7 separate regions of the Homo sapiens genome follow, and all the other regions are reported to be linked to region 2. Evidence: microRNA targets listed by miRTarBase, many of them from high-throughput screens and not tested one by one. Region 2 holds a microRNA gene; each other region holds the end of a gene's coding sequence.
Evidence for each region. The annotated mature microRNA hsa-miR-4701-5p reads UUGGCCACCACACCUACCCCUU and lies in region 2 at 1,560-1,581, shown strand. An mRNA with a match to its seed (bases 2 to 7 or 8) in the 3' UTR can be bound and repressed. Matches are read on the target gene's strand: a 7mer-m8 pairs with bases 2 to 8, a 7mer-A1 pairs with bases 2 to 7 and ends in A, and an 8mer does both.

Region 1 (4,066 bases), not on the chromosome of region 2:
AACTTTCAATATACCTGAAATAATATCATTTAATTTTGAAATATGGTATTTTCATTTGGTTTAGAGAAAGGTACAAGTGTGTTCCTTTACTGAGAAATTACTATGCACCTTTACTGAGTACTTACCAGCACATATACAATCTGTATGCAAACAGGACCCTTTTCAGAAAACATTCAGATGTGATACTGTAGCAAAGAGCTTGTCATCCTGTCTTAAATTCACACATAATTACTAGTGGTCAAAAATCATCACTCTTGCTTGCCCATCCAGTTCTATATCCAATAATGAGTTCGTCCAATTTCAAATGGGTATTTACAGAATCTCTAATCTCAAGACAGTAACACTTGATTTTCAGAGGATCGGCATGATAGGAGATGATTGGTTTTTTGAAAAATTCTGATTATAAACTACATGCTGGAACATTAACATGGATGACTGAACACATTCTTTTATGCTTCTAGAATCCCATTGAAATGACTGGAGAAATATTAAAATAAAAATAATAGCAGAGTTGGAAAACCAGAAATTTGAACAGTGAAATTTCTGGAAGATAAGAAGCAGATGATTTAAGTACCAGTTAATTAAAGGATGGAACAGCTAAGCCATTCCACTCATCTTTGGAGCATCTGATTCTGGAGTTTGCCACCAGGCTAAGAAAGCAGCTATCTGAAGTGGGAGCTCTGACCCAAGAAATGCTGGGATCGGAGAATAAGGGAATTATCCAAAATGGCTCCGAAGAGGAACTGAAGTTAAGCTGCCCACATGATCTCTCTAACTATGATGACCTGCCACTTCCGTTTATAATCACCATATAAGTGCCTGTAATCATTTGTGTTCATTAAAAGTGAACCAGAATTCCCATTTGGATGAAAAAATAACACTTCCAACTTTAATCTTAGGCCCTCATTTATAAATATGGACAACCAAGAATCATCAAATTTGAAGAAAACCAGTAACATAAAAGGAGGCATGAAATTAAAATTAACCTGTTCAAGAAGATAGTTACTAGGAGAAACATGAAATTTTTAAATTAATGAATCAAAATCTTCAGCAATTCATAAAGATACTGTGTTCATAAAGAATAGGATGCCATGAAAAAAATATTTAGAGTTTCTGGAAATTAAAAATTTGATTATGAAACTGAAACACTCAGAAGATGGACTACACAGCAGAATGGATTCATTTGAAGCTTAAATTCATGAAATGGAAGGTATTAATTGGTCTTAGACGTTTCATCAGCAACTTAATTACTTAGAAAAAATCTTTCTCAGAGTAACTAAGCAAAATGAACAATGAACCCATTAACGTGTGGTTTTGTTTTTTGGGTTTTTTTTTTTTGAGTCAAGGTCTCACTCATGTCACCCAGGCTGGGGTGTAGTGATGGGATCACAGCTTATTGTAACCATGAACCATTGGGCTTAAATTATCTTCCCACCTCAGCCTCCCAAGTAGCTGCAATGTACCACCATGCCGAAGTTTTAAAAAATTATTGTAGAGTTGGGTTCTTTCTTTCTTTTCTTTTTTTCTTTTTTTCTTTTTTTTTTGAGACGGAGTCTCGCTCTATTGCCCAGGCTGGAGTGCAGTGGTACAATCTCAGCTCACTGCAACCTCCTCGATCTCAGCTCACTGCAACCGTGAAGTGATCTTCCTGCCTCAGCCCCCCTAGTAACTGGGATTACAGGCACACACCACCATGCCTGGCTAATTTTTGTATTTTTAGTAAAGACGGGGTTTCACCATGTTGGCCAGGCTGGTCTCGAACTCCTAACCTCAGGTGATTCACCCACCTCGGCCTCCCAAAGTGCTGGGATTACAGGCATGAGCCACTGCATCCGGCCAAGATGGGTTCTTTCTTAGGCTGGTCTTGAACTCCTGGCCTCAAATGATCCTCCCACCTTGGCCTCCCAAAGTGCTGAGACTACAGACCTGAGCCACTGTGCCCAGCCCCATGAAAGATGTTTAGATCAAATAAACTGATAAAGATATTGATAAAGATATGAGACAAACTACTTCAGCTTTGTGACCTGCAAATCCCCTTTTATAATCACCAGAGGTGCCTGTAGTCAGAAAAAGTCTAAATAAATACTAATGACATATGAAAACAAAGTCCAACCAAAGTTCTAGGTTTGAACATGAATGGAGGCATGGCAGGACACAGAAAGTGAAAGCTTGTCCTAGATATTGTCTTATTCATGGGAAGGATACAGGTAGTGTTTGATTCTAGGTATTGATTGAAAAAATATATTAAAATATATATAAAGTTAAGGGTATGTTAGTAAGGATAGGTTAGGTGATGTTGCATTAACAGCTCCCAAATTTTAATTACTTTCAACAACATAGGTTTATTTGTGCCCATGCAGTTTGCCTTTGGCAGATTGGCTAGAGGCCCCTATTCAACATCAACCTCAATCTGGAAGCGAGGCTGGTGGAACGTCACTATTTGGAACATTGCTGGTTGCAGTGTCCAAGGAAAGACAGTATGATGCAGCATATATTGTGACTTAAAGCTTCTGTCTAGATGTGACATATGTCACTTCTGTTCACATTTCTTTGGCCAAAGAAAGTCACATGGTTATGCCTGAGTTCAGCAGACCAGGGAAGTGCAGAATTGCCATTTGCCATGAGAAGAGAGGGAAGCAAATGTATGTCAACAACTTTAATAGCTACAAAACTACCTGGAAAGAGGGAATGGAATTTTTAGGTCCAACAAGACGGGAAAGAAAAAGAAACAAGCTACATAGAAATAAAAAATCCACAATATAGCAAGATCAAGTTTTTTACTCATAATAAACATGAACAGGTTAAATTCTGGAATCCTTAGGCTTGAGTAAAAACATGAAATCCCACTGTGTGCTATTTGCAAAATCTAAAACGCTGTCATAGATTATAAAGAGATGAACAAAAATATACCAGGCAGATGCTAAAGAGTAAATGTGGCTGTGTTAGCTGCAGACTAAATAGAACCCAAGGTGAAAATTGGTAAAGGGGACAAAAGCTTCTTTTGGCTGATAAGTACAGTGTTGCAGAAGATTTTTTAAAAAAATATATCTGCAATTTAAAAACTTGATGTTAGGCCGGGCGCAGCGGCTCACGCCTGTAATCCTAGCACTTTGGGAGGCCGAGGTGGGTGGATCACCTGAGGTCAGAAGTTCAAGACCAGCCTGGCCAACATGGCAAAACTCCGTCTCTACTAAAAATACAAAAAAAAAAAAAAAAAATTAGCTGGGTGTCATGGCGCATGCCTGTAATCCCAGCTACTCGGGAGGCTGAGGCAGGAGAATCGCTTGAACCTGGGAGGCGGAGTTTGCAGTGAGCTGAGATGGCACCGCTGCACTCCAGCCTGGGCCATAGAGGAGACTCCGTCTCAAACAAACAAAAACCTTCATCTTAAAATTATAGGGTAAGAATTTAGAAATACAAGGAAAAATGGCCAGCCAGTTATAACAAGAAGCTTTAAGACATCTCTTTTCAGAATCAGTGGATCGACTGCTGCACACACACTAGAATGGCTAACATTTTGAAATGCTGATAAATATGCAGAGCAACTGGAGTTCCTCACAGCTGGTAGGAATGCAAAATGACTCAGTCACTCAAAACAGTTTGGCAGATTCTTTAAATGCTAACATACACATACCATATGACCAAGCAGTCCCACTCCTGGGTATTTAGAGAGATGAAAACTTAGTTCACACAAAACCTGTGCGTGGATATTTATAGCAGCTCCATTCATAGTGACCAAGATGTCTTCCAACAGGTGAATGGATAGCGATGTATCCATATGGTGGCAAACATGCCACAATTCGGATGAATCTCAACATCATATGCTGAGTGAAAAAGCCAGTCTCGGAAGGCTACATTCTGTATGATTCCATTTATATGGCATTCTTGAAAAGACAAAACTATAGTGACAGAACAGATTGGAGATTGCCAGGTGTTGGGGTTGGGAGGAGTTGATTACAAAGAGGCTGTACAAGGGAGTTTGTTTGTTTGTTTGTTTTGGTGATGAACAGTTCTGTATCCTGATTGCGGTGGTGGTAACGTGAGTCTATACATATGTTAAAATTTA
Region 2 (4,066 bases):
CATCAGCAGCATCGGGAAGTTGGCCATGATCTTTGTCTTGGGGCTCATCTATTTGGTGCTGCTTCTGCTGGGTCCCCCAGCCACCATCTTTGACAACTATGACCTACTGCTTGGCGTCCATGGCTTGTGAGTTTATTCTCAGGTCCTTTAATACCCCAGGAGCTTCCCTCACCTTTCTAGGTCACTGTGAGCCTCTCTGGTGCCCATGCCCCTTGTGCCTTGGAATGCCACAACACCCCTGTGGGGGAAAGGGAGGAGATGGAGGAGCTCCCAGCATGTGACCCCAAATAGTTACCCCCAAGGAAACCCTAGTCCTGGGAAATCCTTGTGTCTTTAGGCTAGACATTAAAAAAAAAAATTCCCTCTTACATTTGCATGGTGCTTTCACATCCACCATCTTAACCACCTATAGGACATACAGCTGCTTGGTGGCAGGGCTCTGGTTAGGAACCAAAGCTTCTGATTCCTGCTTGGGGGCTTTGCCTGGGACACCACACTGGCTTTTCCTCTGCAAAACCCCATTCCTTTGATATGTGGCCATAGCTTGTTGTAGTAGAAAAAGCCTCTGGTCTCTGCTGGGTTTGAATCCCTGCTCTGCTGCTCATTAGCTGTGTGACTTTAGACAGGTGAGTTAGCTTCTCTGAGCCTCAATTTCTTCATCTGTAAAATGGCAATGTCACCTAAATCACAGGGTAGTTGTAAAGATTATAGTAACTAACATTTATGGAAGGCTGACTATATGGCAGGCACTGTGCTAAGCCTTTTACATACATTATTTAGATCTGATCCCTGTTGTACTGATGAGGAAGGAGGCTTAGAGAGTTAAGCGACTTGTCTCAGGTCACATAGCTGGTAAGTAGAGGAGTCTCTAAGAGCAGAGGTTTTCTTAACCTCTACTCTTAATGAGTTAATTAATGTAAGTAAAAGCCCTGGCCCAATGCCTGACTTACAGTATGTGCTCAGTAAATGCAGTCTCTTGTCTCCCCTTCCATGTGCCCACCCAGCAATCCAGGAAGCACTGATGACTTTGTCTCTTCTATCTTCTTACCAGGGCTTCTTCCAATGAGACCTTTGATGGGCTGGACTGGTAAGTGAGGGCTCCGAGGCAGCAAAGGGTAGAGCCATTAGATGCCTCCTTCAGACACCAAGCATGTCTCTGCTTATCCTTAGTCCAGCTGCAGGGAGGGTGGCCCTCAAATATATGACCCCTGTGATTCTGCTGGTGTTTGCGCTGGCGCTGTATCTGCATGCTCAGCAGGTGGAGTCGACTGCCCGCCTAGACTTCCTCTGGAAACTACAGGTGACTGTGTGGGCCTTTGGGGGAAGAGGAGGAACCTAGGGGCGGAGCCTGGGCCAGGCCAGAAATGTATCTTGTGCTAGCTGGCTAAGGCTCAGGCCACACCTAGGCCCACCCTGGTTCCATTCCTTCTCTGTGCCCATCCCTTACTCCCTGCCCCATCCTCTACCTGCCCCCTTTACCCCTTTGCCTGTTCTTTAGGCCTCATCTGTCTGGGCCTTTCTTTCTCTATGTGATTCCCTCTTATCCGCACTTCCAAGCCTTGGCCACCACACCTACCCCTTGTGAATGTCGGGCAATGGGTGATGGGTGTGGTGTCCACAGGCAACAGGGGAGAAGGAGGAGATGGAGGAGCTACAGGCATACAACCGGAGGCTGCTGCATAACATTCTGCCCAAGGACGTGGCGGCCCACTTCCTGGCCCGGGAGCGCCGCAATGATGAACTCTACTATCAGTCGTGTGAGTGTGTGGCTGTTATGTTTGCCTCCATTGCCAACTTCTCTGAGTTCTATGTGGAGCTGGAGGCAAACAATGAGGGTGTCGAGTGCCTGCGGCTGCTCAACGAGATCATCGCTGACTTTGATGAGGTACTTTTCCAGTTGGCTGGTGGTGGCAGAGAGTGGGGGGTACTTGGAGACCAGGGATTGGAATGGGTGAGTGGAACTGGGAAGAGAGAGAGAGATTTGATGGGACCCAGAGTCATCAGGGGTAAGGGTATGCACAGTGGAGGCAGAGGCAAGAACCCATGAAGGTGTCAGAGGCAGCAAGGGGGTCAGCCCTAGTGGGGCAGGGTCATCACTGTTGGGGAGCAGGGGAGGACTTGATCTGTAGGGGGATAGGATAGGTACCAGGTGGATGTCACTGAAGAAGAAGGCAATAGTCTGTGGACAGAACCTCATGAGACCAACCAAGCAAGATGGTCCTCTGAATAGAGAAAATTGAAGCAAAATGTGAGGTAGTGTCCTGAACATCCAGATCAGGAATGGGCTGTTCACTGTTCTGGAGGGAAGTCACTTGCTCACTCTGGGACTCAGTATCCCAAAAGGTAAGGATTGGAGAAATTGCTTAATATTGCACTTGTGGGTCTGTGTTCTGTGAGTGAGCTACTGGAGGGACCTTCTGAAGCTGTATGCCCAAGTCCTGCCTGGAGTCCTAGGCTGCCTGTTTTCCCAGCTCCTCAGTCTTACACTGATAGCAGCAGCTGGAAGGGGGCTCTTGAGACAGGGAAGTGGGGAAGGCAGCCAAGGCGTGGCAAGAAATGAGTGTTGGGGCAGGGCTGGGTCTGGGGTCTTTGCCTTGACAGCCAGGTCTCCTTGTGTTGTTCAGATTATCAGCGAGGAGCGGTTCCGGCAGCTGGAAAAGATCAAGACGATTGGTAGCACCTACATGGCTGCCTCAGGGCTGAACGCCAGCACCTACGATCAGGTGGGCCGCTCCCACATCACTGCCCTGGCTGACTACGCCATGCGGCTCATGGAGCAGATGAAGCACATCAATGAGCACTCCTTCAACAATTTCCAGATGAAGATTGGTAAGAGGGCTTTGTTGCTTGGCGGGTTTTCCCAGGACTTTTTCCAGGTGAAGCTGGGATTATAGGCTGGGGATGGGATCACAGATTTCCCATCAGGGCTCCTGTGGGGTTTTCTTCCCTCTGACCTCCTATATCAAGTCTGATATTAAGAACAGAGATCATTAGGCACTGTCCTATAAATTTTTGAGCATATTTTAATCCTGATACTATTATCGCCTTTCATTGGATAGAGACTGACTCTCAGAGAGATTAAATAACTTGCCCAAGGTCAAACAACTAGTAAGTGGCAGAGCTGGGATTAAAAATCAGGTTTATATAAACTTGAATACTTCTGTCCTTATCTGTGACCAGTCCAATAAGAGGTATTTCCTCTCAAATGAACTGGTGGATGGGAGTGGTTAATAGCATGGCTACTAGAGATGGACTATTTGGTTTGAATTCTGGCTGCTCCATTTACTGGCTTATTTGAGAAGTCTTCTAACTTCTCTAAGCTTCAGTTACCTTATCTATAAAATGGGGATAATAATACCTACCTTTTAGAGGTGTTGAAAGGATGAAGCCATGCCGGGCGCGGTGGATCATGCCTGTAATCCCAGCACTTTGGGAAGCCGAGGTGGGCAGATCATGAGGTCGGGAGTTCAAGACCAGCCTGACCAACATAGTGAAACCCCTTTTCTACTGAAAAAAAAAAAAAAAAAAAAATTAGGCCGGGCGCAGTGGCTCACGCCTGTAATCCCAGCACTTTGGGAGTCCGAGGCAGGCGGATCACGAGGTCAAGAGATCAAGACCATCCTGACTAACACGGTGAAATTCCGTCTCTACTAAAAATACAAAAAATTAGCCGGGTGTGGTGGTGGGCGCCTATAGTCCCAGCTACTCGGGAGGCTGAGGCAGGAGAATGGTGTGAACCCGGGAGGCGGAGCTTGCAGTGAGCCGAGATGGTGCCACTGCACTCCAGCCTGGGTGACAGAGCGAGACTCTGTCCCCCCCAAAAAAAAAAAAAAAACAAAAATTAGTTGGGTGTGGTGGTACATGTCTGTAATCCCAGCTACTCGGGAGGCTGAGGCAGGAGAATCTCTTGAACCTGGGAGGCAGAGGTTGCAGTGAGCTGAGATTGTGCCACTGCACTCCATCCTGGGCAACAGAGCAAGACTCCATCTCAAAAAAAAAAAAAAAGAAAAGAAAGGATGAAGCCAGGTAAAATGCTTACTAGAGTGGTTGACATGGAATAGGCATT
Region 3 (4,066 bases), not on the chromosome of region 2:
TCAAATTATATCACTCAGAGGAGGACACTTCTCAGAATACAGCTACTCATGAAACAGGCACATCATCAGATTCCACATCATCTGTTCTTGGACCTCACACTGACAACATGATTTGTGCTGTAAGCAAAGCCTCCTTGGATTCTGTTTTTTCAGATAAACTTCATTCTAAATATGAATTACAGCAGATTAAACATGAACCTATTGCATCTGTAAGAATCAAGGAAGAACCTGTGAATGTTAATATTCCTGAAAAGACTACAGCACTGAATAATATGGATGGCAAGAATGTTAAAGCAAAATTGGATCATGTTCAATTTGCAGAATTTAAGATTGACATGGATTCTAAATTTGAAAATAGCAACAAAGATTTAAAGGAAGAATTGTGCCCTGGAAATCTAAGTCTAGTTGATACAAGGCAACACAGTTCAGCACATTCAAATCAAGATAAAAAAGACGATGACATTTTGTGCTAAATTTGCATATACCATCTAAAATCCTTTTTTAAAAAAATTTAATGTAATAAAGATTCATGAATTCTGAAAGCAAGCCAAGGACTTGCTCCTATGTCTGTTACAAAACATAGTTTATGTAGCTTTGTAACATTCCTCAGTGCCTGTCCATAACTGTGAAGTATTAAGCACTTAGGGCCAGATGCACTGTAAACATTGCAGGTTTAAACATAAAGGAGTCTTTAAAAAAAAATCATTTACGTTGGAATTTTAGGTTTTAGAATAGAGCTGACATTAACATATATATATATATATAAATATATATATATATTTTGTAATATGAGCCAGAATTCTTTTTCAACAATTTAAAGCTTTTCCATAGAGCTTATTTATATCCTTTTTTTTCATTTTAAATGTGTCAGCACTGTAGTGTAAATAGCTTTTAAATATCTTTTTAGTGTGATTTATACTGAAATGTGAGCCACTTAATAAAGGTTCATATGTTCATATTAATAAATATGTTTTCTGTTGAGTCTGTAAAGACAAACTGACAATTCATTTAAGTCATTTGATAATGATTCTCTGCTGGTATATCTATTTAGTGTGGTATTGTAGTGCAAATGTACGTAATTCAAATCTAGTAAATATTTAAGTTCCTCACACTGTGCAGGCTTTTTTTTTTTTTTCTTTTTTTCTTTTTTTTGATACGGAGTTTCATTCTGTCACCAGGCTGGAGTTCAGTGGTGCGATCTCGGCTCACTGCAACCTCTGCCTCTCGGGTTCAAGTGATTATTCTCCTGCCTCAGCCTCCTGAGTAGCTGGGACTACAGGCACGCACCACAACACCCAGCTAATTTTTGTATTTTTAGTAGAGATGGGGTTTCATCATGTTGGCCAGGATGGTCTTGATCTCTTGACCTTGTGATCCGCCCACCTTGGCCTCCCAAAGTGCTGGGATTGCAGGGGTGAGCCACAGCGCCCAGCCTATGCAGGCATTTTTAACAACCAAGACTCAGTTAAGAAAGTGTGCATCTGCGTGTGTGTGAATGTGTATATATATGTATATATATATCATATTTTGCATAATTTTCTTAAATTGCTGAATAAGATCAATATGTGAAATTCCTTAGCCCTTCTCCCCAAAATACATTGAAAAAAGTTTTATATTAAACTATTAAGAAAGCAGTTTAGGTAATAGAAACAGTTTTAGAAAGTTGGGAGAAACAAGGTATGTTAATGATAACAAAGGCTTCTAACTAATAGTTACGTGGCCAGATTACATAGCCTACCATAGATTTTTTTTATTGTGTATGGGATGATAAGAAGTTTAGAGAATTTTCTTACTAGTAAGTACCTTTACTAAGTAATAGCTAAGTATAAAATCTTTAGTTACAGAAAGCTTGTGAGCAATTAAAATCCTTTTACATTTTTCTTGCAGAATGGGAGAAAAATATGGCAAATACAAAACTGTAAAATAAGGGCAATGACAATGACTCAACTGCCATATAGAGATATAATTAACAAAATACTTTGTGGTACCTCTTATCTCTCAGGATCTCCTCCCTACCCTAGCAAGGCAAACAACTTGGAGTACTTCCTTTTCGAAAGAAGTTCTAGAAATTAAATTGAGGTAGGAGACGGATTGACAGTGCCTAACTAAAGATGAGTAAAACAGACCTCTTTAATGATAGACTCACTATTTGACACTGCTTCTACTATTGTAATTAAAAATCAGAAGTCTTTGATGTATGCGTTGCTGTAAGAAACTCTGCTCATTGCAAATCTATTTTGTTTGTTTTTGGTATTATTCTGGGCACATACTTTGGTTGATGACTTTCAATTGGGGTTCTTTGTGCTGCCTTTTGGGTTACTGTTGGTATTTCCATTTCTGGCTTAATTTATGGTAACCATCAAAACTGCTTATATTTCTGGTTAGGGCGAAGCCATTTAGGAAGAAGCATTTCACCAGAACAAGTAAAAGTTAATTGCAGCAATGATGTCAGTTTTGGCCCCTAGTTTAATAAAAGGATAGGCAAATATCATAGGAAATCTTCATGGTTTGTAGGAAATCAGTGTTTGCAACGTAGGAAGTTTCATGGGATAGGGAAGGTATAAATCAAGATAGTAAGGGTTTTGTTTTATATGTCATTGTCTTACCATGCTCCCCACCTATTTAATCTTCTGTTTTAAGCTAAATTTATGGATTTGCACCTACCTTTTTGAGTGGCAGAAGTTCTTAACAAACCAGTATTGAGAAATAAGAAGGGATGTAGTTAAAATGGTTTTCTGTTTCTCTTTAAAGTTGAAGAATGATATATTTAACAAGAGTTGTGTTTTATTTCCAGTTTTCCAGTAGCATATATGTAGATGCATTGAGGTCATACTGTGAGAAAATGTCTTTAGGGTATCCCTCCAAAATAGGAGCCTTAAACTTTTTAACTTAAAGGAAGGCATATCTAAAAACCATAGTGGTTGCTTTTAGGTATAGTTTCCTATATAACCTATAGTCAGACTTATCTATAATATGAAAATTTAATTGTTTTAAAAATGCATACATCGGCCGGGTGCAGTGGCTCACGCCTGTAATCCCAGCACTTAGGGAGGCCGAGGCGGGCGGATCACGAGGTCAGAAGTTTGAGACCAGTCTGGCCAACATGGTGAAACCCCGTCTCTACTAAAAATACAAAAAAATTAGTTGGGCGTGGTGGCGTGCGCCTGTAATCCCAGCTACTTGGGAGGCTGAGGCAGGGGAATTGCTTGAACCCGGGAGGAGAAGGTTGCAGTGAGCCGAGATCGCCCCACTGCCCTCCAGCCTGGGCGACAGTCTCAAAAAAAAAAAAAAAAAAAAGCATACATCTCTGAAGGTAAAGTATAAATCAGTGGGCTCAAGATTTGCAGGTACAGCCTTGTTAATGCCTTCAATAATGCTTACGTTCCTTGTCTTATGGGTTATAATTTTCACATCCTCTTCAGATACAATCTGAGAACTTGTTGACTACCTTTGTTACATGCAAAAATTTTCTATTTTAATATTGCATTATATTAATGGTTTCATAGTACATTCCAGTTCTTTATCTGAATACAAGCGTTTTGCTTTTATTTCCAGTTTCTTGGACCAGAACAATAAAATACATAAGACATCGTTTCTATATGGTCATATACTATATAGAATAAAGAATTGTTATGTAAATTATTAAATGAGTATACAGACCTTTACATAAAAACTAAGGTACCTCAGTGGAATCTGCTACAGTGCTTCCCCCTCCCTACCCCTCCATTTTGTTTATAACCTTTTAGCTATCTAAATAATACGTATTCCATACTCAGGATAGCTGGTTAGCTAGCAAAAGAATTAACATTTGTGATATTTACTTGCAAACTTTACTGAAGCCATATTCATTATCTTCCTTGTCACCAAGGCTGTTGACCTTAAATAAACATTAAGTTGATTTTGCACAACACTGTATTTGTGTGTGTGCATGTGCCTGTTTTTGTGTGTGTATGTTTGTGGGAAATAATTATGTTTGTTTCCGCATATATTCATTTTTAATGCATTCTGTAACTTTTCTCGAGTGGTGGTCATTGAGGGTAGGGAAGATTTTATTTTTTAAGTTGTC
Region 4 (4,053 bases), not on the chromosome of region 2:
TGAGCTTATACATGCAGATAGCTCACTCCAGCTTTTGGCCCAGAGTAAGTGGTCACTAAAGGTTAGCCACAGCTGTCAGTAACAATTCCCTCTCTTCCTGCCTGGGTGTTCTCTTCCATTACAGACAGAGTGGGAAGCTTTGGAGCTGACGGATCACCAGTGGGCACTAGATGATGTCGAAGAAGAGCTCATGGCCAAAGACCTCCACTTCGAAGGCATGTTCAAAAAGGAATTACAGACCTCTATTTTTTGAAGACCGAGCAGGGATTAGCTGTGTCAGGAACTTGGAGTTGCACTTAACCTTGTAACTTTGTTTGGAGCTGGCACCTCTTGAAATAAAAAGGAGGATGCACGAGCTGGCAGGCATGCAGCAAGGCTTGTTCTTGTCTGGGCTGGGTTCCCCTTTATGTTTGAAACTAGAGGAAATAGGAGTATGCTGGGCAACTTGTTATTTTTAAAATGTTGTAAATGTTCCTTCTGGTGACTCTAGTAATGAAAGTCAGAGAAAGGGGGAAACCTCAGGCTACTGATAATATATAAAATCTTGGCCAGGCGCAGTGGCTCACGCCTGTAATCCCAGGATTTTGGGAGGCTGAGGCGGGTGGGTCACGAGATCAGGAGTTCAAGATCAGCCTGGCCAAGATGGTGAAACCCCATCTCTACTAAAAATACAAAAAAAAATTAGCCGGGCGTGGTGGTGGGCACCTGTAATCCCAGCTACTTGGGAGGCTGAGGCAGAGAACTGCTTAAACCTAGGAGGCGGAGGATGCAGTGAGCTGACATCGTGCCACTGCGCTCCAGCCTGGGCGACAGAGCAAAACTCCATCTGAAAAAAAAAAAAAAATATATATATATATATATATATATCTATCTTAGCAGAAGCCCAGTCTTCGAAGGAAGCATTGTTAATTATAGCTAATGATTATGTGCAGTCAGCCTGACATCTAGCCACAGTAAACTCCTGTTTTCTTGGGATCCAAACACCCTGTGTTTTACCATTAGTTTTGTTAGTATTGTTAACTTTCTTTACACAAGTAAACCATTTCCACTACCAAAGGTTTAGAAACTATGGATGAACAAAATGAATCTCCCTGTTCATTTTGAGCCTACATAGACATAGAGACCAAATATGTCAAAACCTTATTCAAATAAACTCTCTTCAGAGTGAATACCCAGGGTCAGGACAGACTCAGCAAACCTTCTATATCACTTAATTCTGCCCAGTGAAAATCAGTGACCCTGAGGCACTGCCAGATTCTAAAGTGCCTTTGGGATCATCAGAGACTGTCTATAAATAATGCAAAATCTTGATCTGGATGTCAGTGTATCAAATCTTATCAAATCCATTGACAAATCAGTGGTGCTATACTGGAAATGGCTACTCCTTTGGATGAAGGACCTCATTTCCCAGTTGCTTGGAACAAAAGAGAATTTACATATTGCTGTAAGAAGGGAGAGACGGCAGTTGTTGGTAGACACACAGATAAGGGTGCCCAAGAATAATTCTGTCTGGATTAAAGGTCCCAGGGAAGTGACGGTGCCATTTCTGTACCAAGAGGTGAATATAATTTGCATGTTGAGTGCAGTAATTAAGAACAAACGACTCGACTCCACAAATTAAACCGTCCTGTTTTCTCTTCTTTGCCTGTGAAAGTGTTGCCTCTGTAAGTCACTAACAACCTTCTGCCAGCAGTTGACTGTCTATCTTGGATCAGTGCGGGGAGTCTAAGACGAAAGAGATGTGAACCTTGCCCTCAACTCACAAGAGAGAGACACCTAAGAGCTTTTTAAAATTTTTTATTATTTTTTTAGAGACGATACCTTGCTATGTTGCCCAGACTGGTCTTGAACTTGTGAGCTCAAGCCATCCTCCTGCCTCACCCTCCCAAAGTGCTGGGATTACAGGCATGAGCCACTGTGCCTGGCCAAAAGAGACCTTTTTTTGAGGTCACCGAATCTGAGAATCTGGAATCTCTGACCCTGGCCTCCAGAGTAACATATGTGGACATAGATACAGACATGTCCCTCTAAAACTTATTCATAATGACCCGCAGACCCAAGTTAAGAAACCCTGACCTTTAACGATAGTTAAAATGGCTGCTTATACCAGATAGAAAAGGAACAAGTGTTCACAGGAGAGCTAACCTTTGACCTGGGTCTTGAAAGACTTCCTCTGTGTAGAAGGGCATTCCAAGCAGAGAAAACAGAATCAGCAAAAGCCCATGGATTAAACTGTCTGCAATTCATTGCACCCCAAGGAAGTGGGGAGTGGTCCAGTATGCCCTGGAAAGGTCCAGGTTGGGTAGCATGCAAATGGTAATTGGTGATTGAGTGGTAGCCGCCTCGTTCCTCTGCATCGGGAGCATTTGAGTCTGCCTCTTCACCCACACAAGGTTTGGCCTTTTTCCCTTGTAGCAAAGATGGGTGGTTAAAATGTGTGTGACCAGCCTGGCCAACATGGTGAGACCCCGTCTCTACTAAATATACAAAAATTAGCCAGGCATGGTGGTGTGCACCTGTAATCCCAGTTACTCGGGAGGCTGAGGCAGGAGAACCACTTGAACCTGGGAGGCAGAGGTTGCAGTGAGCCGAGATCGTGCCACTGCACTCCAGCCTGGGCAACAAGAGTGAAACTCCATCTCAAAGAATAAAAAAATGTGTGTGAGACTTTCCTGTCCCATTGTACTGGTAGTAAATGCACAGACCTGTCCTTGGCATCAGCGAGTCAAAAAGAAAAGCCAAGGTTGTTTTAGTAGGCTCTTTCCAGAACAGCGCACAGGCTTAGGGAGCAGTGCTTATTGTGTGTGTTTCTTGGAGTTCAATTTGGGCCAGGCTATAAATGAGAATTGCATCTCTTCCATCCACCTTGACTTATCACCTGATACTACTTAGGACACCGCAAATGTCTACTTGCTGATCATGGAATAGAACAGGGGTGTCCAATCCTTTGGCCTCCCTGGGCCACACTGGAATAAGAATTGTCTTGGGCCACACATAAAATACACTAACACTGACGATAGCTGATAAGCTACAAAACAAACAAAAAACAATGTTTTAAGAAAGTTTATGAATTTGTGTTGGGCCCCATACCAAGCTGTCCTGGGCGGCATGCAGCCTACAGGCCAGACAAGCTTGGTATAGAAAGTACCGTACAAGGAAAGCTAAATATTGACAGTCAACTGCACAACACAACTCAGAAAAATACAATTTAGATTTGAGGTGAGTAGGTAAACCCGTGCTTAGGGACAAAAGTCAGCTCGATTCCTCTGTTTGGTCTGTAAGGTGTGTGATGGGTATGTGTGTATGTGAAAGAGGGTTACTAACTGGATTAGGAATATTGCAGTTGCAGGTGACAAGCTGAACTCAAGCAATTAAAAAGGAATGGAAATTGACTCAATAACTAAAATGTCTGGTGGTTGGCTTCAGGCACAGCTGGGTCCAGGGCCTCTCATGATATCATCAGGACTCAGTTGCTTTCTCAAGTCTGCTTCTTAGACAGTTAGTTTTCTTATAGAGGCACGAGATTAGTAATCCTAGTGAAAAGAAAGCACCCCTTTTTAAAAAATCTAGGAAAAGTTAGGGTTGCATCTTAACTCATCTGCCTTAAGTCAACTGCAAATTCCAGGAACTGCTTAGCTTCTCATAAACTATAAGAACTGAAGGTATAATAAGAGTGATTCCCCAAAGGAAAACTGGGATGCTGTTGCCTGAAGAAGTGGCATGGGTACCAGACAAAAAATATCTTATCTTACCTTTAATCATCCAAACCATCTGGAATGTTCCCAACAGGAGGTGCTGTCCCTGTCCTTGGAAGTAATTGCGGTCTGCAAACATTTGCAGGATTTCTACAGTGTGCTCAGGGCCATGCTAGATATTTTCAGATCTTTCTGTTCATTCAACCAATAGTGAATTGAGTGTTGCCAGGCACTGCATATGAACAAGACACAGTCACAGACCTTAAAAACTCAGACTGCTAGACCAACCTGGCTAACACGGTGAAACCCTCTCTCCACTAAAAAATACAAAAAAATTAGCCGGGCATGGTGGCGGGTG
Region 5 (4,066 bases), not on the chromosome of region 2:
AGGGCAGGCAACCCAGAGTGAGTCCATCAGCCTAGAGGGTCCAAGAAGAACCTGCGTGCCCACCAGGCTGCAGGGCGGGCCTCCTGCAGGCCGCGGCATGGAACAGCTGGGATGCCAGCGCTGGGTAGGGGGTGTGGAGGGGGTACCTGAGCTGACGCCAGAGGGCCCAGCCCCTGAGGAAGGCCGAGGGGCAGACGGGATGCAGACTTCAAGGGCTACTTCGGATTTGTCCTGGGGACAGTGGGGGAGCCCTGGTGTGGGGGGGCGGTCTCTGAACACAGGAAGGACCAGATGAAGGCCCCACAGGGCTGGTCACTACCAGCAGCGCCCACGAGCTCCTCTGGGGCAGGAGGACCCTGGAGCTTCTCCCTGTGACCCGGCCCCGCTCTTCACCCGCAGAGCACCTTCGGCCTCCAGGTGCCTTTCTTCTTCTTCGCGGCCATCTGCTTGGTGAGCCTGGTGTTCACAGGCTGCTGTGTGCCCGAGACCAAGGGACGGTCCCTGGAGCAGATCGAGTCCTTCTTCCGCACGGGGAGAAGGTCCTTCTTGCGCTAGGTCAAGGTCCCCGCCTGGAGGGGGCCAAACCCCCAGTGGCTGGGCCTCTGTGTTGGCTACAAACCTGCACCCTGGGACCAAGAGGCAGCAGTCATCCCTGCCACCAGCCAGAGCACAGGAAGAGCAGTGTGATGGGGCCTCAGCAGCGGGTGCCCCTGGCTCGGGACAGGTAGCACTGCTGTCCAGCCACAGCCCCAGCCCAGGCAGCCCACAGTGCTGCACGTAGCCATGGGCCGCAGGAGTGCATACAACCCTGCATCCAGGGACACGGCCCTGCTGGGTGACCTCAGGCCTAGTCCCTTTCCCTTGCGTGAAGGACACGCCCCACAGAAGGCTACGGGGAGGACTGAGAGGACAGGGCTGGAGGCAGCCAAGTAACGTAGTCATATCATCGCGCTCTGATCTGGTGGCATCTGGCTGTGCAAGGAAGACCCGGCTTTGCCCTCACAAGTCTTATGGGCACCACAGGGAACATCCTGGACTTAAAAAGCCAGGGCAGGCCGGGCACAGTGGCTCACGCCTGTAATCCCAGCACTTTGGGAGGCCAAAGCAGGTGGATTACCCAAGGCCAGGAGTTCAAGACCAGCCTGGCCAACATGGTGAAACCCCGTCTCTACTAAAAAATACAAAAAAGCTGGGTGTGGTGGCACACACCCGTAGTTCCAGCTACTTGGGAGGCTGAGGCAGCATTGCTTGAACCCGGGAGGTGGAGGCTGCAATGAGCTGAGATCATGCCATTGCACTCCAGCCTGGGCAACGAGAGTGAAACTCCGTCCCCACCCCCTGCCAAAAAAAAAAAAAAAAAAGCCAGGGCAAAGGACCTGGCGTGGCCACTTCCTCCTGCCCCAGCCCAACCTCTGGGAACAGGCAGCTCCTATCTGCAAACTGTGTTCACCCTTTTGTAAAAATAAAGGAACTGGACCTGTAGTCCTAGCGAGGAAAGAGTGGGGTCTACTCCAGGAGCCCCCACAGCAGCCAGGCTAGACCCGAACCAGCCAAGGTTGCCAGGGCCACTGACTGCTGATCCATAGCAAAAGCAGGGCAGGGAAAAGGCTGCAGTGAGGGGAAGCCCACTGCGAGGCCCACCCTTAACAGGCTCTTTCTAGCTGTGTGACCTTGGGCAGGTCACTTTCCTTGTCTGGGATGCTGGGGGCAGCCTCGGGACAGGACCTGTAGTTATTTCCTGGGCCAGCGGCTCCTGCCTGGCTTCCACACTCACACACAGGCACCAAGGCAGAAGGGAGCAGAGGGCAGGCACGCGAGCCACGGCCACGCTTTATTGCTTAAGACGCACACAGAACACAGAGGAACAAACAAGGAGGAAAGGGCGCCACACACAGCCCAGACCAGGCAGGAGCGGCCCAGCCGCCGGAAGAGACGTTCCTTGCAAGGCAGGGCCCCTGCTGGACAGCACGCCCCCTGGGCGACAGGGTCAGGGACCCCAGGACTGCACAGCTGCAGACTTGCTGGGAACCTGGGACAGGTGACACGCCCACTCTCGCCTGTGGCCCAGGGCCTTCCACCTCTGCATCCAGCCATGCACCCACCATTTCCCCACAGGGTACAGGGGCAGCCTTCCTTGATCCACAGCCAACCCTTCTCCTGCTGTCTCTGGCTGTCAGTGAGACCCCTCTGGAAAGGGCAGAAGCAGGCAAGCCAGGCAGAAGGGGGCCCGGGGTCCCACTACCTGGGTAGGAATGAGCAGAGGGCGGGCAGAGCCCTTGCTCCTTGTGGGAGGTAGACAGGTCTCACTGCATACATGGGACAGATGTGTGCACCCACACACATATACATACACACACACACACACACACACACACACACACACACAGCCCTTTGAACCCAGCACTGGCCTGAGGAAGGTGGCCCCGGAGGAACCCTGAAGGCACATGTCCACCAGGCTATAATGCCCCTGCCACCCTGGGGCTCAGCTGGCCAGACTCCCAGGGGTGGGATGCTGCTGACCCAGGAGCCCACCAAGTCCCCAGGGCAGTACTGGGCAGGGCCCAGAAAACCCCACGCCCAGCCCACCAGCCTGCCACTCCTGGCCTCAGATGCCACTCCCGGCCTCAGATGCCACTCCCAGCCTCAGACGCAGATGGGCCCGAGAGGTGTTCCTGGGAAACAGTTCACTTAGCAAGACCCAGTACCTGCGCTCCAGAAGCTCAGCGCAGGCCCAGCCTGGGGTTGGCCCCAGATGGAATATCTTCCACACCCGCCCGCTTCTGCCAAACCCCACCTGGGCTAAGCCAGGCCCGACCAGGCACCTGCCCGATGGCTGAGAGCCAGCCTCACGGTCAGAGAGGCCAGCGGGCTGAGGCCACAGGGCAGAGGGAATATGGGGGTGCACATCCTGGGCACCAGCTCTCTGCATCCTCCCTGGGTAGGCCTGGCTCCGGACAGCCTGGCACCCAGGGCAGTGGGGACAGCTCTGTGTGGGGAGGTGACTGTGGCCTCTGCCCAGTTCTTAAAAGGCAGAAGCTCCCTGAGGGCAGGGCTTGGGCAGGCCAGCAGGAGCACCTGAGTGGGGCTGAGGTCAGACCCACTAACCCACTAATGGGGCTGGGCTGTGGCTGATGTTGACGGGGCCACACCAGGGAGAGGGTGGGCACCCTCGGTGCCAGGGAGAGCCTGCTCTCCCCACTTCCTTAGCACCAAGGCCAGCAGGGGCGGGGGGTGATGGGCAGAACCTAGGGGCCCCAGCAGGCCCAGGGAGGAGGGGCAGCCGAGGGGCCTTGAGGTGGCCTGTCCAAGGTTCCCAGGGCCAGCAGGGAGCATCCCCCACCCAGCTGTCCAGTCACTGCCAAGGCTGCAGTTCCAGGTACCGGGGTGCACCTTAGGAGCCCTGTGGGCTTCTTCAGAAGGCAGGGTGACAGTGGGCGCTGCACCCTAGGCAGCAGTGGGAGGTTGCTGGCAGCGGCAGGCTGTCCCAGGCCCTGGGGCTCCACCTGCTAAGAGAGCTGGGGGAGGTCCCTCTGCTCAGTGCCCAGGTGGCAGGGTCCCACTTGCCCCTCCCCTCAAGCCAGGACCAGCATCTCCAGGGGAAGCTGCTCCCAGGTCACAGCAGGTCACAGGCAGCCCTGTCTGTGGTGTGAGATCTGCAGACCCACCCAGCAGAGGAGTAGGGCTGGGTAGTGTCCACACAGCTGCTGCAGGCTCTGCCTCAAGTCCAGCAGCCCAGACCCTCACACCAGCAGCCAGTGGCTCCTGGCTTAAGCCAGTCTGGAGAAAGGAGCAGAGGACTCCAGGTGTAGGGACACGTGCAAAGGCCCCTCTCCAGGCTGTGCCTCAGCGTGGACAGTCCAGGCCTCACTTGGACCCACACAGAGCCAGAAGAGGGGACAGGGAGGGAGGGGCGCCCAGCCCTTCACAGCTCCCCCTCCAGGGTCTCCGCGAGCTTCTCCTCATCCGCCTGCTGCCTCTGCTGCTGGATCCTGGCATAGGAGATCGCATCGCCCCTGGGGAGAGAGAGAGGCAGCGTCACGTGGAGCACCAGCCCCATGCCCACAGC
Region 6 (4,066 bases), not on the chromosome of region 2:
AGAGTGCAACCCTGTCTCAAAAACAAAACAAATTAGCTGGGCATGGTGGCGGGTGCCTGTAGTCCTAGCTACTCTGGGGGCTGAGACAGGAGAATGGCATGAACCCAGGAGGCAGAGGTTGCAGTGAGCCAAGACTGTACCACCGCACTCTAGCCTGGGTGACAGAGTGAGACTCCGTCTCAAAAAAAAAAAAAAAAAAGAAAAAAAGATAAAGGGTGGGAGTCTCTGAGCCTATGTTGACTTGGGAGGCTGTCCATTAGGAAGAAAAGAGGGGGGCCGGACATGGCGACTCACGCCTGTAATCCCAGCACTTTGGGAGGCCCAGGCGGGTGGATCACGAGGTCAAGAGTTTGAGACCAATCTGACCAACATGGTGAAACCCCATCTCTACTAAAAATACAAAAATTACGCCGGGCGTGGTGGCTCACGCCTGTAATCCCAGCACTTTGAGAGGCCAAGGTGGGTGGATCACAAGGTCAGGAGATCGAGATCATCCTGGCTAACACGGTGAAACCCTGTCTCTACTAAAAAATACAAAAAGTTAGCTGGGCGTGGTGGCAGGTGCCTGTAGTCCCAGCTACTTGGGAGGCTGAGGCAGGAGAATGGTGTGAACCCAGGAGGCAGAGCTTGCAGTGAGCCGAGATTGAGCCACTGCACTCCAGCCTGGGCAACAGAGTGAGACTCTGTCTCAAAAAATATATAAATAAATAAATAAATAAATAAATAAATAAATAAATATTAGTCGGGTGTGGTGGTGTGCGCTTATAATCCCAGCTACTCGGGAGGCTGAGGCAGGAAGATCGCTTGAACCCGGGAGGCGGAGCTTGCAGTGAGCTGAGATCACGCTATTGTACTCCAGCCTGGGCGACAGAGCAAGACTCTGTCTCAAAAAAAAAAAAGAAAGAAAGAAAAAGGGGTTATTATTAATAATATAGAACACGCTCGCAGAATATAGAAAGAACCACCACCCAATAGGAAGATGAATTTCACATAATAAATGACCCCAAACACCTCCCACCTCAGAAGCAGAAAGGGGCCAACTCTTCCTCTCTCTGCCCCTTTCAGAGCGCGGCTCAGCCCGTTGGGTGCTTCTGCTGCAGCCTTGGATTAGGAGGGACTATGAGGTGGGGACAGCAATGACAGCCATCTGGCCAGGCCAATACATCCTGCCTGGCTGGGCTTTCAGCTCCCACCATTGCCCCTAGCTGGTCAGCAAGGTCCTGCCCGCCTCCTGGCTGTGGGGCTGCACATGTCAGATTCCCTTCCCATGTCTGGGGAGCTCCCACCTGAGGATCTTGCTGGAAAGTCCTTGCCTGGGCTGTGCCAATCCAAGGCCCTGCCCTGCTCTTGAACAAACAGCCACAGGCTAGGAGCAGGGCCACAAGATGGAGGCTGCAATGACGGCAGTGATCGGGGTGGGGTCGTCGTGGGAGGTTTTTTTTTTTTACAAATATAAAAACATTATATATATTGGGGGTATGTATATTACACGTATTATCCTTTTAAAAAGTTTTATTGTGAAATATTTATCCATGAGTACATATAACATAGATGTCCAGTTTTTCAAGTTACAAAAAGCAGACAGCCCTCCCTTTTTTTTTTTTTTTTTGAGACAGAGTCTCGCTCTGTCACCCAGGCTGTAGTCCAGTGGTGCAATCTCAGCTCACTGCAACCTCACCTCCTGGGTTCAAGCGATTCTTCTGCCTCAGCCTCCCCAGTAGCTGGGATTACAGGCGCACACCACCATGCCCGGCTAATTTTTGTATTTTTAGTAGAGACGGGGTTTTGCCTTGTTGGCCAGGCTGGTCTCGAACTCCTGACCTTGTGATCCGCCTGCCTCGGCCTCCCAAAGTGCTGGGATTACAAGCGTGAGCCACTGCGCCTGGCCAAAAGCAGACACCCTTGGAACCACCTCCCAGAACAAGAAGTGGAACATTTCAAGTAAAAAAAATTACACCTGCCCTATGACCCAGCAACCCCACTTCCGGAAATACAAGCAAAATCATGCCCAGGGGTCTTCGTGGCAGCTTGCTCTGCAATGGCAAACACCACACCAAACCAGGAGGAGCTAGCCTGTGCCGACACCTGCACACACGGCTGCCCCAAAGTCCCACACCCAGGGGTGGGATGCTGGAGATGAAGGTCCTGCCAGTGTCACGTGCTGCTTAGTGACAGGGTTGAGGGGCCTTAGTCGGCTTGACTCAAGGTGGCCTCACTGTGGCCTTTTGTATAAAAAAATCTTCAAGTGCTCATTGTTCCCTGAGTGACTCACTTGAGGTAACAGCCTACATACATGACCATAAATGTGGCCAAACATCCCACTCAGAAATATTCATCATAAGCCAGGCGTGGTGGCATACACCTGTAATCCCAGCTACTCAGGAGGCTGAGGTAGGAGAATCCCATGAGCCCATGACCGCACCCCTGCACACCAGCCTGGGTGACAGATGGAGATCCTGTCTCAAAAAAAACACATCAATGTTTGTATAGCTAAAAAGAAAGAAATTTAAATGTCCAATAATGGATAAATAAACTTGATAGTCATTAGAATGACTACAGCAATCAGTGAAAATTTTCAATCATGTGAAAAATGCTTATGTTAAGTCAGGAAACTTCAGAAAACACTGTAATCTGAGCTACTCTGGAGGCTGAGGTGGGAGGATCCTTTGAGCTCAGGAGCTCGAGGCTGCAGTGAGCCATGATTGTGCCACTGTACTCCAGCCTGAGTGACAGAGCAAGACCATCTCCTAAAAACACAAAAATGTTTAAATGCAGAAAACAAAATTGTTTGTAGAATACAATTATAAGGATGCACAAAATAAAAAGACTACAAGACAGGACGGACGTCTCTCCAAATGTTACAAAAAATTAAAGAGAGCTGCAGGCGGGGAGGAGGGAGGAATCTGTCTCCCCCTGGGACTACTCTGGCTCACCGCCCCTCCCTGACTGCTCCTTTGGCCCTTATCATCTCCAGAGGCAAGTTCAGGTAGATCTGAATTTTGTCACACACGCTGTCCTGTAAGCCCAGAAGTCCCCTGGGCACTGCTCTCGCCTCCCAGGCCCAGACAGTACCTAGAACTGGGTTCTCTCTGGGGCAAGGGCATCCCATTTATCCCCCTCCTAGACTGTGTCCCCTTCAAAAAGGCTGCAACAGTGAACTCTGCGTTTATGCTCACCTCCCCCAACCTCCCATCTCTTTCTGAGTTAACAGAGAGGCCAACAGCTGGTCCTCCAGTCCCCAAGCTGAAGCTGGGCAGCTCTTGGGCACATAGGCATGGTGGCAGCTATGCCAGGGCTCCATCCCATGCCTTCTTCAGCTGAGCACCTCTTCCTGGGGCCCCAGAGGGAACACAGCCCCTGGCTGATGGCACAGGGTCAGGGTCCTACCCTCGAGGAGCCAGAAGACGGGGGTGAGGGGCTGGTTGAAGAGGGCATGGAAGGTGTACAGGGGCTGGGTCTGGGGCTCCAGGCTGTAGAAGGTGAGGCAGCCTGAGGCCAGGTCCAAATCCATGCCCAGGAGCCGCCCTGACACCCCTGGGAGGCGCTGGGCTTCCCCGTTGTGCCAGGCCTGGAGGCTGTCCTCCTGGACGCAGAGCCCCCAGGAGCAGGGTCCCCGGCCAATGTTGTCTGTGTGGGGCCCCAGCCTGCACCGTGGCAGTTGCGGGTAGGAGACGCCCAGTGTCACCGAGTGGTCTGACGCGCGCACCTCCCAGTAGTGGTGCCCGGCCTGGAAGCTCTGGGCACATTGCACCTGCCAGAGCTCAAAGCTGCCGGGCCCGCCTGGGCCCCGGGACTGACGACAGTGCTTCACCTGCTGGTCCTGGCGCGACAGATAGAAGTGACGGTTGGCGCTGACTGGATCAAAGGTCAGATTGCGATAATCTGTTGGGGAAAGGAGGACAGCAGTGGGCTGGGGGAAGACAGCACAACCAGATCTCCATTTATCCGCTGCTAAACCTCCGCCAGGCACGCTGAGCACCGGCCGTCACCATAGCACTTAATCCTCGCCACGACCTCGCAGGCGGAATCCTCTATCAGCCCCGTTCACAGCTGAGAAAACTGGGGC
Region 7 (4,066 bases), not on the chromosome of region 2:
AAGCAATTCTCCTGTCTCAGTCAGCCTCCCAAGTAGCTGGGACTACAGGCACACGCCACCACATCTGGCTAATTTTTGTATTTTTGGTAGAGACGGGGTTTCACCATGTTGGCCAGACTGGTCTCGAACTCCTGACTTCAGATGACCCACCTGCCTCGGCCTCCCAAAGTGCTGGGATTACAGGTGTGAACCACTGCGCCCTGCCAGTTACAGAATTACTTTTTGATTGGGGGTGGTAATACACTATGAACTTAAAAATGCTACTTTACTTATTTTTAAAATGTTTTGAGTTAATAGAAAAACAATAAAAGATCTTAAGATATATGTTTAGCATTTTAAAGTTATCAAGGAACCAGAAATCTGTAAGCAATAAGAAACATATTGAAATAATCTTCTAAGAATAAAAATATTTATTCAAGATTCTATTAAAGTATACAAAGAACGAATTTAGGATTTAAAACAGAGGAACATTTTATTTATTTATTTATTTATTTTTGAGACAGAGTCTTACTCTGTTGCCCAGGCTGGAGTTAAGTGGTGCAGTCTCAGCTCGTTGCCACCTCTGCCTCCTGGGTTGAAGCAATTCTCCTGCCTCAGCCTCCCAAGTAGCTGGGATTACAGGCACACGCCACCATGCCTGGCTAATTTTTGTATTTTTAGTAGAGATGGGGTTTCACCATGTTGGCCAGACTGGTCTTGAACTCCTAACCTTGGGTGATCTGCCTGCCTCAGCCTCCCAAAGTGCTGGGATTACAGGTGTGAGCCACCCGCACCCAGCAGAAAGGAACATTTTAAACACGTTACCTAGTGTTAAGGCATGATAGCTCAGCAATTTTTTTTTTTTTTTTTTTGAGACACGGTCTCATTCTGTCACCCAGGCTGGAGTGCAGTGGCACAACCACGGCTCACTGCAGTCTTGACATCCTGGGCTCAAGCGATCCTCTCACCTCACCCTCTTGAGTAGCTGGGGCTACAGGTGTGTGCAACCATGACCAGCTAATTTTTTGTATTTTTGGTAGAGATGGGTTTTGCCATGTTGCCCAGGCTGGTCTCAAACTCCTGAGCTCAAGTGATCCACCCTCGGCCTCCCAAAGTCTTGGGATTACAGGCATGAGCCACCGTGTCCAGTCACAGCCCAGCAATAGTAACAGCCTTGATCTTGATAGTCTCTTAATAGCATGTCTCATAAATAGTTTATTCCGGAAGTTGGAAATTGTAAAATTTAATATAAAATAAAAATTTTAAAGCTTATAAAATCAAAAGTTCCATTTAGTTTGTTTTTACGTACATCGTCTTATTCCAAAAGAATCTGAAGTGGTTGGCAGAGGAATGTGTACAGGAGTAACCATGAACAGAAATAATCCTATAAAACAAAATACTAGATGAATGCCGGGCGCGGTGGCTCACGCCTGTAATCCCAGCACTTTGGGAGGCTGAGGCAGGCAGATCACCTGAGGTCGGGAGTTCAGGACTAGCCTGACCAACACGGAGAAACCCCATCTCTACTAAAAATACAAAATTTGCCGGGCATGGTGGCGCACGCCTGTAATCCCAGCTACTAAGGAGGCTAAGGCAGGAGAATCGCTTGAAACCAGGAGGCAGAGGTTGCGGTGAGCCAAGATTGTGCCATTGCACTCCAGCCTGGGCAACGAGCAAAATTCCATCTCAAAAAAAAAAAAAAGAAACCGTCGAATGGACACTAATTTTTTTTAAAAGAAAAGCTCACGTGCACAGGGAGTAGAATAAATCAAAGATTACACTTCTACCCTAAAGTTAGAAAAGGCAGGCTTTCTATGGTTAGGAGGAAAAATCTACCAACACCTTTAAATAAAAAATGCTTTAACTAAAACAAGATTTTGCTGAAATCCTTCCAAGGCAGAAAAAACTATGAAAACCAGAAACCAAGGTTGGGGGGTGGGGTGTCATGTTTAAAATGAAGCAGCACTAAGCAACATTTCTCCAGCTTTCACCTTGCCCAGAGTCTTGTAGATGAATATCAAAAACAAATTAAAATCCACAGAGCAGAATTTTTCTTCCACTTGTTTAAAGGAAACTGTTATAAGCAGAACTGTCCAAAGGGCCATATCAAAGAAAACGGGTTCTAAAGTGAAACCTAAAACATTCCAGTAACCAAATACCTGAGAGAAGCTGTGAGGAAGTGCATGTGGAAGGCTGACACATTTCTGAGTTTCCATAGACTCTTGCAGCTTCTATGTTCAGTGAGAAAAAAAATCCCCAGGCAATGGCTCCTACTAGAAGTTTAAGGAATTCTAAATTGCTCTTCAGTAATTCTCAGCCTTGAGTGCCCATTAAAATTACCTGAAAAGGTCTTTTTTTTTTTTTAATACCAATGCTGGACCCCATCCAAGATCAATTAAATTGAAATCCCTTGGTACAAGGCCCAGGCATTAGTATTTTTTAAAGCTCCCAGAGGTTCTAATGTGCTGCCAGTGCTGAGATCCACTTAGCAACCTACAAAAATGCTGAAAAAGTCAAGGATGACTGTAATTACTGTGTGTTTGAAATTCAGTTGTGACAGAAAATGATTTTTCTGGGAGGTAAATTTTTTTCACTAGTGCTAGGCTGCCTTTCTTTTCATGTGCTTATGCCCTCTACTATACAGTACTGAAATCCCTCAAGATAATAAGAACAACACCATTTATTGAGCACTTACATGGTATCAAGCACTGTGCTGGGCACTACCCACCCCCATCTCCACACACAATCACTGATGTCCATTATTCTGCAAAAATAAGTATTAAACCCATTAATCTGAAACAGCTGATAAGAAGGCGTTTCGTTGGCCCCTATCACAAAGCAAGAAGTTACAGAATTGGGATTAGAACCTACATGTATCTGATTACGAAGCAATGCTTTTTATTTTCCTTTAATTTTATGTATTTATGTTGCAAAAGGTAATAGAGTTACATGTTTCACAGGTTTATAAAGGTTTATATGGTATACATAAGGCATATAAAAATTAATCTCACTGATGATTTTTTTCTATCACAACTGAAGTTCAAATACATAGTAACCACGATTATCCTTGATTCCTATCACTTAGCCTCTCCTATCACCCAGCCAACAATTCTACTCCCTGGAGACAAACTTAGCAGTTTCTTGTTTATATAATATATTTACAAGCAAATACATGTAAGAATATGTGACATACCATACATTTGAATTCCTCCCCACCCCATTTTAAATAATTTCAACAACTGCATAGTTCACACACTATTTTGCACATGGCTTTTTTCACTTTAACAGTGCATCTCAAAGATTATTCCATATCAATAAACTTTTTAAATTTTTTTTTGTAATACATAGTATTCCATTGTACTGATGTACCATCACTTTAAAACCAGTCTATTATTGATAGACATTTGATTTTTTCTATTTGCTGTTATAAAAATGTTAGAATGAATAACCTTGAGCTACATAATTTTATAAATACATACAGATAATTACACCTATAGATTAAATGCCTAGATGTCAAAAGCCATGCCCTTTCACTACTCTATGCTATCTCAGGATTCTAAGAAACAACTCACAATCAGACTTATAATGACTTATACTTATTTTATTTAAAAACTTTAAATACCCAAATTATGCTTTTTGTTTTATTTTAAAATATTGGAATTTTTTTTTCAGAATATGCTCAAAAACCAAACAGTCTGAGAGAGGGTTTTAAGCCAAGGTAAAATGACTTTAAAACCAGTGGCATAAACACTGTGCTGGCTGTCTCTTCCCGTTCAGAAGGTATCTGCCCCCGAAGACTCCATGTCCTCCTGCATTGTGCTGAGACTCAGAGACTGAGAGCAGTCCTCGAGGTTCACTGACGGCAGCATCACTGACATCTTGGCAGGGGGCATCTGTGAAGCGGAGAGTGGCACTGCTTTCCCACCTGCACAAAGGAGAAGCTCATTCAGCTCAACATGCGTAACCTGAGTATTTACGTGCTTTATGCTTTGCGAAATAATATGAGGTTGGGGTGGGGGGGCGCGGATTCCAAATAAGGATTGCCTACAAGGGACTCTCTTGTCCCAAGGTGCTCAGAACTTGTCAG

Region 1: the mRNA of CEP78 is a reported target of hsa-miR-4701-5p. Seed matches in the 3' UTR shown: 7mer-A1 at 2,552-2,558 and 7mer-A1 at 3,163-3,169.
Region 3: miRTarBase lists RSBN1L as a target of hsa-miR-4701-5p. Seed matches in the 3' UTR shown: 7mer-m8 at 1,717-1,723 and 7mer-A1 at 3,096-3,102.
Region 4: the mRNA of EMC3 is a reported target of hsa-miR-4701-5p. Seed matches in the 3' UTR shown: 7mer-A1 at 635-641.
Region 5: miRTarBase lists SLC2A6 as a target of hsa-miR-4701-5p. Seed matches in the 3' UTR shown: 7mer-A1 at 1,144-1,150 and 7mer-m8 at 1,382-1,388.
Region 6: miRTarBase lists TRIM65 as a target of hsa-miR-4701-5p. Seed matches in the 3' UTR shown: 7mer-A1 at 1,794-1,800.
Region 7: miRTarBase lists KIAA0586 as a target of hsa-miR-4701-5p. Seed matches in the 3' UTR shown: 7mer-A1 at 682-688.

What each region holds. Positions count from the first base shown.
Region 1 is chr9:78,270,380-78,274,445 of GRCh38, forward strand. CEP78 (centrosomal protein 78) reads left to right here. Exons shown (of 17, transcript NM_001330691.3): 17 at 462-4,066. The coding sequence ends at 472. Among named protein-coding and RNA genes, the nearest start is that of PSAT1, 25 kb to the right of the region's middle.
Region 2 is chr12:48,769,529-48,773,594 of GRCh38, reverse strand. It overlaps MIR4701 (microRNA 4701), which reads left to right and starts at 1,558; the gene lies at 1,558-1,620. It overlaps ADCY6 (adenylate cyclase 6), which reads left to right. Exons shown (of 22, transcript NM_015270.5): 16 at 1-126; 17 at 1,052-1,087; 18 at 1,171-1,300; 19 at 1,622-1,885; 20 at 2,625-2,829. It also overlaps a transcript of SPMIP11 not described here.
Region 3 is chr7:77,778,696-77,782,761 of GRCh38, forward strand. It overlaps RSBN1L (round spermatid basic protein 1 like), which reads left to right. Exons shown (of 8, transcript NM_198467.3): 8 at 1-4,066. The coding sequence ends at 473. Among named protein-coding and RNA genes, the nearest start is that of TMEM60, 18 kb to the right of the region's middle.
Region 4 is chr3:9,960,269-9,964,321 of GRCh38, reverse strand. EMC3 (ER membrane protein complex subunit 3) reads left to right here. Exons shown (of 8, transcript NM_001394674.1): 8 at 125-1,640. The coding sequence ends at 253. Among named protein-coding and RNA genes, the nearest start is that of PRRT3, 9.9 kb to the right of the region's middle.
Region 5 is chr9:133,468,510-133,472,575 of GRCh38, reverse strand. SLC2A6 (solute carrier family 2 member 6) reads left to right here. Exons shown (of 10, transcript NM_017585.4): 10 at 400-1,482. The coding sequence ends at 555. It overlaps CACFD1 (calcium channel flower domain containing 1), which reads right to left. Exons shown (of 5, transcript NM_017586.5): 5 at 1,728-4,013. The coding sequence ends at 3,923. LOC124902295 (a long non-coding RNA gene) reads left to right here and starts at 4,009. Exons shown (of 2, transcript XR_007061831.1): 1 at 4,009-4,066. RefSeq lists a silencer at 2,982-3,101 and enhancers at 3,562-3,611, 3,682-3,731, 3,812-3,971.
Region 6 is chr17:75,887,466-75,891,531 of GRCh38, forward strand. TRIM65 (tripartite motif containing 65) reads right to left here. Exons shown (of 6, transcript NM_173547.4): 6 at 1,498-3,882. The coding sequence ends at 3,314. Among named protein-coding and RNA genes, the nearest start is that of TRIM65, 7.5 kb to the right of the region's middle.
Region 7 is chr14:58,547,619-58,551,684 of GRCh38, reverse strand. It overlaps KIAA0586, which reads right to left. Exons shown (of 31, transcript NM_001329943.3): 31 at 388-3,904. The coding sequence ends at 3,753. Among named protein-coding and RNA genes, the nearest start is that of DACT1, 88 kb to the left of the region's middle.